2 separate regions of the Homo sapiens genome follow, and region 2 is linked to region 1. A link means that fine-mapping ties the variant in region 1 to the expression of a gene that starts in the linked region. Tissue or cell type: whole blood. Region 1 holds a variant in brackets; the other region holds the start of a gene. All regions are shown on one strand. Distances are from middle to middle.

The links. PIP is the estimated chance that this variant, and not a neighbour inherited with it, causes the effect.
Region 2: MAP3K1 starts here. The variant in region 1 is fine-mapped to the expression of MAP3K1 in whole blood (INTERVAL, PIP 0.95).

Annotation. Positions count from the first base shown.
Region 1 is chr5:56,326,401-56,331,548 of GRCh38, reverse strand. The region is part of intron 2 of LOC105378977 (a long non-coding RNA gene); the gene reads right to left. Among named protein-coding and RNA genes, the nearest start is that of ANKRD55, 96 kb to the right of the region's middle. The variant C/T (reference allele first, on the strand shown) is at 2,363.
Region 2 is chr5:56,813,479-56,818,626 of GRCh38, reverse strand. It overlaps MAP3K1 (mitogen-activated protein kinase kinase kinase 1), which reads right to left and starts at 3,078. Exons shown (of 20, transcript NM_005921.2): 1 at 2,572-3,078. The coding sequence starts at 3,053. RefSeq lists silencers at 1,981-2,220, 2,401-2,520, 2,591-3,360 and enhancers at 1,446-2,269, 3,721-3,850.

The DNA of each region.
Region 1 (5,148 bases):
GGATAAATTAGAATAGGCAGGAAATAGAGGGAAGGAAACCATTTAGAGACTACTACAAATAAGAAATAGAAAAGATGTATGAAGATTGGACCTAAGAAAGTGACCATGAAAACAGTGAGAAAAGGGTGATTATGAACAAAATTTACAAGGTAGACTCTTTAGGGCCTGTCTACTGAGTCAATGGGCACCAGGAGCGAGAGCGAGAAGGAAGATTCAAGGTGATGCCAAATTACTGACCTAAGAAACAGGTTGAATGGTGGCAGTGCAGTCACAGACAACTACTAATCTGCTTTCTGTCACAGTGAAATAGTTTCCATTTTCTAGCATTGTATATAAATGAAAGGCAGTAGGCACTATTTTTTTTTTTTGGTCTGGCTTCTTTCTCTCAGCACATTTATTTTAATATCCATCCCTGTTGTGTGTATAGCAACAGCTCATTCCTTTTTATTGCTGATTAGAATGGCAAGTTTCATTGACTGTCAGTCACCCTGGAGTGTCATTCCTGGCTGAGCCTCTCCCTGGCATGTGGACACTCAAGATTCATTCCCCCATCATCTGCCCACCTCCCTCCCACATCTGAATCTGCAGCTGTTTGCCTTCCCCAAATCCTCTTGTCACTGTTTGACGAGCAGTTACTGTTAGAGTGATTTCCTGGTGGGTTGCAAAATGTTACAATGTAACCAAGTATTAAATGAGCAAAATACTCTCCAAGGAATTGGAGGAGGTTGTCTTCAAAGTTGAATCTCAAAAATTCTGATTTTTCTACATTTCTGCTTAGTTCATCCTTCTAAAAAGACACCGTCATTTCTAATATGGACTCACTAAAGACATAAAGATGGCCAGTACAAGTAAGCTAAGACTACTGAATGAACACTCCAATTACCTTGTTTGAGGTTGGTCCCAAATTTATCTTTTGGTTGGCCTGCACGGATAATAAATAAATAAGCAAACAACAATAGAATAAATACCAGTGGCCTAAGTTCCACATCATTAGCATTTTGTGTTCCCAGAGCTACCATGTGGATCAGATTCAACTGGTATCCTGAGGGCTCCAGTGCTGCCTTAGAAAAATGATTAGTCTGGTGTACCAACCTCTGGGAAGTCTGCTATAGCCAGATTCCAGGAAATAGGCACTTTGACAGAGTCTTCAGCATGAATGCCCAAGGGAAGGAGAAGCTCTGAAAGAAAATTGTTTTAAATAGCTGCCTAATGATTGAGCGTCATGAAATGCTTTCACTTGGCAGGGCAAAATTGCACTACCTAGAAATGTCTGGGTGGCATTTAGAGTTGACAGACAGTAATGAGCGCTGGTTAAAAAAAAAAAAAAAGAGGTATTTTAGTGCTCTAGCAATTGCTAGACCTTCAGAAACACATCTCCCTTCTATATTTACACCTGCATTTTAAAAAGAAAAAAGAACAAAGAGAAGGAAAGAGAAAAAGGAAGGAAAGAAAAAAGGGAGAAAAGTATATCTATCATTTTATCCATTTCTAAAGACTCTTACATCAATTTAAAAGCTAACCATAATTGATCTTTTACTATGAACAATGTTTTGTGCTAAGTGCTTTACAAATATTAGCTAATTTCATCTTCACAACAACTGTTTAAGGCATACAACATTATTTCTCCCTTCTTACACATAAAGAAACTGAAGCTTGCCTGAGGTCATCATCTAATTGACAAGTCACGGTTCAAACCTAGGTGAGTCTAGCTTTAGAATTTGGGTTTCAATCACCGTATGGCATTGCTTCTCTTTCCTAACCTGGACTTAGTGATTGTGCAAACAGTGATGTCAACCATCTCAGCTTGCCTGGGTAGGGATGAAGAGAATTTCCTTCGCTCTTGCTTCTGAAGTTTAAATAATTTGAGTCTATAAAACAAACTAACAATAGGCAGATTCACAGGGAAAAAAAAGTGTACAAATTTTATTAATGTGCATATGGACACAGAAGCCACACACAAAGTATGAGACTCAATGGAAAGCCAGATGGCTGAAGGTTATATACCATACAGCAAGGAATAGAGGCTTGGGGCATGGCAAGACAAGTTATTGGAGGAAGAGGGGAGAAAAGGCATGGTGAGCAAAGGCTATCTTGTTATGCAGATAGAGCCCCATGGATAGCAGCCCTCGGAAAGAACAGACAGTATCCTGCTCTTATGTGGTAAAACTTTATCTGTCAGACCTTTTGAAGTGTCAGAACTTTAGTCCCTCTTTCCTGTGATTTAATCTTTCCTAGGTCTGGATAAGGGAGGCCTTATAAAACCCTGTTTGTGTCTGCTGTTAACTTCATTTCACTAATGTAGATTTCCTCTACAGATGCAAATCTCCCCGCCTCCCCAAAAGACAGCTTTTCAAAGCTTTTC[C/T]TGTGGTTTGCAGTTCCTGTGAATAGTCATATCAAAATATACCAAAGAAGTATATTTTGGAGTGGCATATTTTTGTTTCCTTTACCTGAGACCCACAGGACCTAAAGCGCTAAAACCTGGAAAGTCCCAGGCTAACAAGCATGAGTTAGTCATCCTCCAAGAATGCAAAAATATGAAAGAAACCTCTCTCTACTCAGTGATAAAGCTTCTCCAACTTAAGTGAAGGGACATTATAGTGTGCAAAGAGACCAGGCCCTAAAAGAACTGAGTCCTTGTCTCAATCTGCTTATAGCCAGCTCCAAGAGACCTTGACCAAGTCAGGTGACCTCTCTGGGCCTCAGCTCCTTCCTTCTTAAAATGATGAAGGTGGGTTAGATAAACAGGTCTCCACTTGGCTGTACATGAGAACCATGTGAGGAACTTTCAGTAAAGGCCGGTGCTCAGACCCCACCCCACCCCTGACCAATCAAATCCCAGAATATCTGGGGTTGGGGAACTGAATTTACTGCAGAGAACAAAGCATACATGTCCCACTTCTTAGAGCTAACAATTTAGTGGAGGAGCAAAAAGGCAAACTATGATTCATATACATATATATATATATATACACACACACACACACACACACACACACACACACATATATATGATCCTCCCTTCTATATTTATGCCTGTATTTAAAAAAAAAAAGAGAAAAGAACAAAGCAAAGAGAAGGAAAAAAGAAAAGGAAGGAAGTAAAAAAGGAAGAAAAGTGTTTCTAATCTGTTTGCCTGTTTCTAAAGACTCTTACATTAGTTTAAAAGCTAACACTAATTGATCTTTTAATATGAATATATATATATACACATGAATCATACACACACATATAATTTGTAGTAAGAGCTATTAAGGTGAAAATAATGTTATGAGAATTATGAAAAATTAATAAGGGGAACATAATTAAAGGGAGAGAGTCTGAGAAGGCTTCTGTGTGTGTCAGAAGAACAAAAAATTGCAGTTAGGCATACACATTACAGGGGAAAGAGCTTTCTAGTCAAACGGATATCTAACTTGGTTATCTGCTTCCGTATATGTCTACATACATACATACTTATACTATATGTACATGAATGAATGACTTACTTGAAGACTCATAGCCAGAACAGAGGGTGGAAAGGAGGGCGGAGAGTGGTGGGGAGAGCGGCACGCAGAGTGCCTGGGGAGGTCGGCAACAGCCAGACCATGTGGCAGACTTGAGGTTTTATCTTAAGTACAACAGCAATAGCAAGCCAGTGGAAGGTTTAGGCAGGGGAGTTACACTTTCAGATTTGTGTTTTTAAAAATTCACTTGTGCTTAAGTGTAGAGGATGGTTTGGATGGGGCATAAGGAAAAGAGAAGTTATAAAGTTATCGCAATAACATGAGTGAAGGTTTTGTTCCTTGATGATGCCAAATTTTAGCAGAATTCTGGGTACCTGCAGAGACTCACTGGAGTAAAGGAACAGGAAACAAATTTGATAGAATGCAAGCGGCATAACTCATGAAAAATCAGGAAATCGCTTTATACTGAATGTAGATGAGTGAGTGCCCTTGGCTTACTGCGTGCTATTCTCAGCTGCCCGAGTGTATTCTGTCCCTCATAAAAGCACACCGAGTTGCCCTCCCGCCATTCCTCTTCTCTCTCCCACTGTGTCTCTTCTTCCTTGTCATTGTTTATGTCTCTATTCCTAGGCTTAGGGTGGCATTCAACCTTGGAGCTCCCATTTTCTATCCTTGCAAGGGTTCCCTTTGTGCACTAAAGCATGGTTGGAGGAGCACACTAATTGTGCAGAGTTTGGCCACGCATTGATTTTTTAGCTTTTTGTCCCCTGGTGGGGTGGCTGGTCCCTTGGCCTCAGTCCATTTCCTAATGGATAGGTGTCAGCTTCACAAAACCATCACCTCGATTAGCACTAATTACCACCTTTCAGAGCCATCATCACCCAAAGGCTCTGGATTGAAAGGTCAGCAGGAAAATGAACTTCTACTCACACCTTCACGGGTGGTCCCTGGCTTCTGATCATGCAGAGGACAAGGGCTAATAGGGACAGACCTTTCCGCCTTTCTGCTCTTAGACCAAATGTTTCTTGAGAAGTCAGCCTTGGGACCCCAAGCCTCAGCTCATGAGATGACTGAACCCATGGCAAAGCACAGTCTTGTTAAACTTCCCTCCCTGTCCTGTCTCCCAGTGGCCTTGGGCTCTCCACACCCAGCCCTCACCCTCAGCCTCACACCATGCTGGTGAAGGAGGTGGCAGAAGCATGCCCACACTCCCTCTAGGTGTGTTTATGGTGCCCATATCCTCTTCCAGGCAGTGAGGGAGCTGTCACCCAAGGATAGGTAAAGAGAGCTCAGCATCAAATACAACTTGTCAGTATAGCAAGTCCATGAGCGTGTCTTTCCATTTAATCTTCACAGTACTTTGGTGGGGGACACAGTGCGAGCATCATTATCTGCCTCATTTTACAGATGAAAAGATAGAGGCCAGAGAGGTTGACAACTTGCACAAAATCCCACAGCCATTTCATGGTGGATTTGGGTCCCCAAACTAAACCATTAGGGGGTACAAATGAAGCCATGTATGCATGCCAAAGCATTTTAGAAACCAAAAAAATACTATACCAACATATAATATCTGTGTTAGTTTCTTGAGGCTGAAGTAGTAAATTACCACAAACTAGCTGGCTTAAAATAACAAATGTTTTCCCTCACAGTCCTGGAGCCTGGAAATCTGAAACACAGCAGGGCCATTCAGCCTCTGGGAGGT
Region 2 (5,148 bases), 490 kb before region 1:
AAAATTCCAAACCCTTGGGCGCCACTTACAGGCACTTTCACTGATTTCAGCTATCACCCTGAAAAAGAGGGACAAACTTAAAATCTTCTATTTAAATACGAGTATTATTTATTTATATAAATTCTAATTCAAAGTATATTTTCTACATTCAAAGATCAGAAGGAAATTCTAAAATTAAAAAAAAGATCACAGAACTCTCAAATATTTCAAAATCTTAGATTTTCCTCTTGGAAGTATGAATGTAACTTAACTGTCAAAAAAAAGTAAAACATAAAGTTCAATTGATATTTTATTGAGTTGGCTATAATTAAGGGTTTTTTTTCCTAAAACTTTAAATGGTAAGTAATAGTGTAGCATAACCAACATGCAATACAAAATATACACACTCAAATAAGATACAAGCCCTTTCCCCACAAAGTTTTATACGAACAGATTCAAATGAATTTCAACCCAATTGTTAAGAAAAAAAAATTCACTATATTTCATAAGGTTAGGGAATCAACATTTTACTATAAATGAAATCTTTACGTATGACATTTGGGATAAACCAACAGCATTCTGACTCGTAAAAATAATTTCTTTAAAAAAGATTATCCTTACAAGCCCATTATTTTCTTATACTGTGCAATTATAATCTACACCTTAAGCAAAGGGGAAAAAACCTCGGTTACAAAACGCAAATACTAAGCATGGATTACTTAGTCCCTAAATTCTATCTGCCTCCACCTTAGTCCTCTTATTTTGTGTCAAGAGACAACATTAAACAATTTCAGTACATTATTTTTACAGTGGATGCTCTTCTACTATATTCACAGCTCATTAAGAGTACTAGAATGCTGACGTTTGCTAAATTATTTATTGTATCCAAAAAGTTAGGTCTCAATAGATACAATTTCTTAAATTTGGGGTTAAAAATTTTTATCTGGAATTCATTTAAAGTAGAAGTTGCCTTCAAAGAATTATTCCAGTTAAGTTTTAATACAATCTGCACAGAAATGGGAAAACTATAGAGGTACATAACTCTTGTAAGAATAAATTACATGTACAAGTGCACACAAAACTGTATCAGTCACAAATCTCCTTTGGTCTCAGTAGTGCCATGGTACAGTGCGAAGCATATTTTTTAGTTCTTGGGGAGAGGAAGGGGACTTCCAAATACTAAATGGATCGTGATTTTAAGCAAATAATCAAATGCACAAAAAATGCCAGATCACTTTAGATAATGAATCCAAACCAAGGACTCCTACTGTCAAATTCGTCTCACAAAATGACACGCTTTCTTCTCATAATAAAGGTCAGGGAATTCTACAGGGCCACGAGGGACTATCACAAAAACATTTCCAGCAACTCAAAATACCCATCAAGACTTTGTACTTTGCATACGTTAATCAGGTTTTTAAAAAACAAACAAACAAGGATGTAGCTGTCACACTTAAAAGAATTTCCTTTAACATAAAAATTTCCAGTAGCCAAAAATGGGCGAGGCCAATAAACCGCTGGTCTAAATTACCTTACACATACTGTACTTCATATGCACCAGAAGACGCATCTGAGCCGAAGCCCACCGCACTGCGGCCCCTGGAATTCAGCGGGCGGCCCGCGCCAGGGCACCGAGCAGGAAGCACTGCACCCGCGCCGCAGTCCCCGGGCCAAGCCGGAGGGGCTGCGGGGAGCAGTCACCACTGCTTTGAAACTGAATGGCTGACACATCCGGTCCTGGCTCTTACACCACTCCGCCAAATGCAAACTTCAAAGGCCAAATTCAAACTCCAAACAGAAGTCACTCAAGTGACTTAGCAGTGCAGTTCGCATTCCCAGGAACACTCAAAGCCCCTTGGGGGCTGCAATTAGACAAACCGCACTTCCTAAAAGACTGCAAGCCTCCGCGAGTGTGCAGCCTCCCGCCGCACGGCTTTGACAGGCGTTACCGAGCCGTCCTCCTGGAGCCCTGCGGCCGGCGCTGGGGGCGCGCCGCCTGCGTCCGGGCCCAGCCCGCGGTATCTGCCTAGGGACTCGAGTCCCGGGCGGGCCGAGGGGCTCTGCCTGTCACGGCCGCTGGGACCTGCTACTTTCTCTTCGGTCCTCTCAGTCTCCCACCCGACCTCGGGCTTCTCACCCACCCCGCCCCTCTTCCGACCACCGCCCGCCTCAGGCTCGGGCCTCGCCCCCCAGTGCCTTTGCCCCGGGGACACCCGTCCGGGGGCGCCGCCGCAGGGCCGTGCCCCGCCCCCGGGCTCCTCGGAGAGCCCCGATTCCAGGAGTCCCACAAAGCCAGCCGTGGCCCCCTACACCTTTTCGCAACGGTTCCCCGCAGAGAGGCTCGCACGCCTGTCACATGTCTGCAAACAATAACAAACTCTTCCGCACGTCCCCGTCCGGTCCCCCAGGCTGGGTCCGGGGCGCCGCCCGACTCCGAAGGGGTCGGGGGGTGCTCAGGGGCGTAGGTCCCGGCGAGCGGCGCGTAGCCTCGCTGCGCTGAACCCCGGGACGCCGTGCATGGTGCCCGGGGTTCATTCATTGCCCTCTGCCCGCTCTCCAAGTCCCCGCCGCGACCCCGGCCGTGCTGCTCACCCGGCGGGGGCCGCTGCAGGAGACGGCTCGGCGGCGGGCGCCCGCTTCTCCCCGGGCTCGGCCGCTGCGGGACTCGAGGCGCCGCTGTCCGGCGCCGCCACCGACTCGGTAAGGTGGGCGCCGCCGCGGCTCGCGGCTCCGTGGGGCGGCGGCACCGCCACAGGCTGGAAGCCGGTCCCACTCCCCGCTGCGTCCGCGGGCTCCGGCGACGGGGAAGTCGAGGAGGCCGGCGGTGAGGCGGCAAGGAAGAGCGGCTGCTCAGGCAGCTGGTCCAGCTCCACACTCCGCACTTTGCGCAGCTGCCGCCGCCGCCAGTCCGCCCGCTCGCGGCCCCCGCTGCCCGCCTCCCGCAGCAGTCCCGCGGCAGCCGCGGGCGCGCTGCTCGCCTTGAGGGCTCCTCCGCCGCCGCCTGCCTCAGGGCTCGTAGCCCTGGCGCCCGGGAATCCCGACGACGAGGCGCGATTCCCCGCCGCCGCCGCCATTTTCTCTCGCGGGCTACATTCGCTCGGCCCCTGCGAGGGAGGGAGGGGGCGGGGAGAGCGCAGGGGGCGGGCACTGCGCCGCCAGCGTAAGGCCTCCTGCGCCAACTGCGTGAGCGCGGCCCGCCGGGCGCCTGGCCTGGACTGACCGACGGGCGGGCGCACTGGGTCCGGCCTGCGGCAGAGGTGTGGGTGGAGGGCGGCCCGGCGGCCGCAGGTGGGAGGGAGTGGGCTGTGCTCTCCGCCGGGCGAGAGGGCGGGCGGGCGAGGTGGACTGGGAGGCGGAGGGGGCGGGGGCGGAGGCGGAGGCGTGGGCTCCCGGGACTCTGCGCGCTGCACGCGCCGCGCCGCCAGGTAGTCCCGGCCGCACCGGCGACAGGAGGAGCCTTGGCGGCAGCGCTGCGCCGCTTCCTCTCGGCAATCTCGGCCCGGCACCGCGGAGCTCGCGGGAGGGGAGTTGCACCTTCCGAAAGAAAGAATTAGTTCCAACTTGGGTTTCTGGTGCTTGAAGGGGACGCAGGCGAGAGGGTTTACAGTCTGTCATTCCCACTGCCCTTTGCAGTGGGCGTCGGGGGACCCGGGCGTGGACCAGCCTCCCACCGACGCGCAGGTGGCGCCCGGGACCGTCGCCTGCTGCAAAGCGAAAGCAAGTCAACGTTCAGCAGACAGGCTGCCGCGGACCAGAAAAATAAAGTTTTGTTTGTGTTTTCTTTTGAAAAGAAAACATTCCTTCTCTATTGTCCCACCCCTGTCCCTGTGCTACAGATAACAAAACTTCAAAGTTTTCTGTAATACCTTACATCCTGAAGCTGCTGATTTGGGACAACTACCCCCTACCCTCACCAAGTCCCCACAGCCTCTGAGAAACCGTTGGGGCGAGGAAGGGAGGCGGGTGTCCCCGTCGATCTTTAGTTTTTCCTTGGCTGTCTTTGGGAAAGGCAGTCCCGTACAGAACCACATATAGCGCGTTTGGGGAGGGGACCAGCGCTGTGCCAGGAAGTGCTCGGTAATGTCACCCTCGGCCAGGTCCCGGCCCTCCCCGAATCCGATGCTTCTCGCCGCACGTCCTTCTTCCCTGCAGGGTCGGGCCACCGGCCGGGTTCCCTCTGTCCCCACTCCTGCAGGGCCTGGCTGCCCATCGCTGCGTTGTGAGTCCTCCTAGTCCCTGGACTCTACGTGAGAAGGTGCTTTGGGATGGAAAAAGCAACATTTACACGTTAATGATTTTTGACCTTTTGTCAACTGAGGAGAACTTCTGTGTTGCGTTTATTTCTTCCTTCCTTTCCTTTCCTCCAGCTGGTTTGTTTAGGATGGGGAATCTCCCAAAACCCAGGAGGAACGTCTATAGATTTACTTTGTGAAACATGATTAAGGAGGGGGGAGGTTGGGGTGGGGGGGTGCGGATTCTCACGGAGATAGTCTTGTCAGTCTTCACATATTTAGACAAAAGCCTGAACTATTTACAGAATAATTCCATTGACTTCTGGAGACTAGGTAAAATGAAAGCCCCTTTCCCAGATACAATGTTAACTGCGTAACCAGGTTAGATCAGAGGGGTTTTAAAAAGTCCAGATTTCATATTAGCTCAATGATTTGAAAACTGCTGTAACATCTCCCATAAGATAGTTTTAGATCGTTACACCCAACGGTACAAATTTTGAAAGTTCAGATAAATCTGTTAAAAATTAAGTCTACATTTAGGCTATAATTATATGCTATTTTAATGGCAGTCAAATGTATCATTCAAACCAAACAGTGGTTATTTCTCAGGTCTTCCTGGGTTGCCACACCCACCAAATCCTAAACTGAAACGGATAAACTTTCCTTGTTCCTATTTTGATCTAAAGACTTTTACATTTGCACGCACATATTCAGGTACCTGTAAGTGAGAAAAGTAAGTGGAAGACTTTAGCCAGAGTAGCAGAGTAAAAAGGAGATTCCAGCAAAACTGATTTTTGACTGTTTGTACAGTGGTTGAAACTGGGGATCAAAGGGAGAGGGCTACCCAGCGCAGCACTATGAACTAGCTACAATTCTCTCACTTCCTCCATCCACCACGTATTACCATGGAGAAACCTAAGTGTTGGTATTTTCCCAC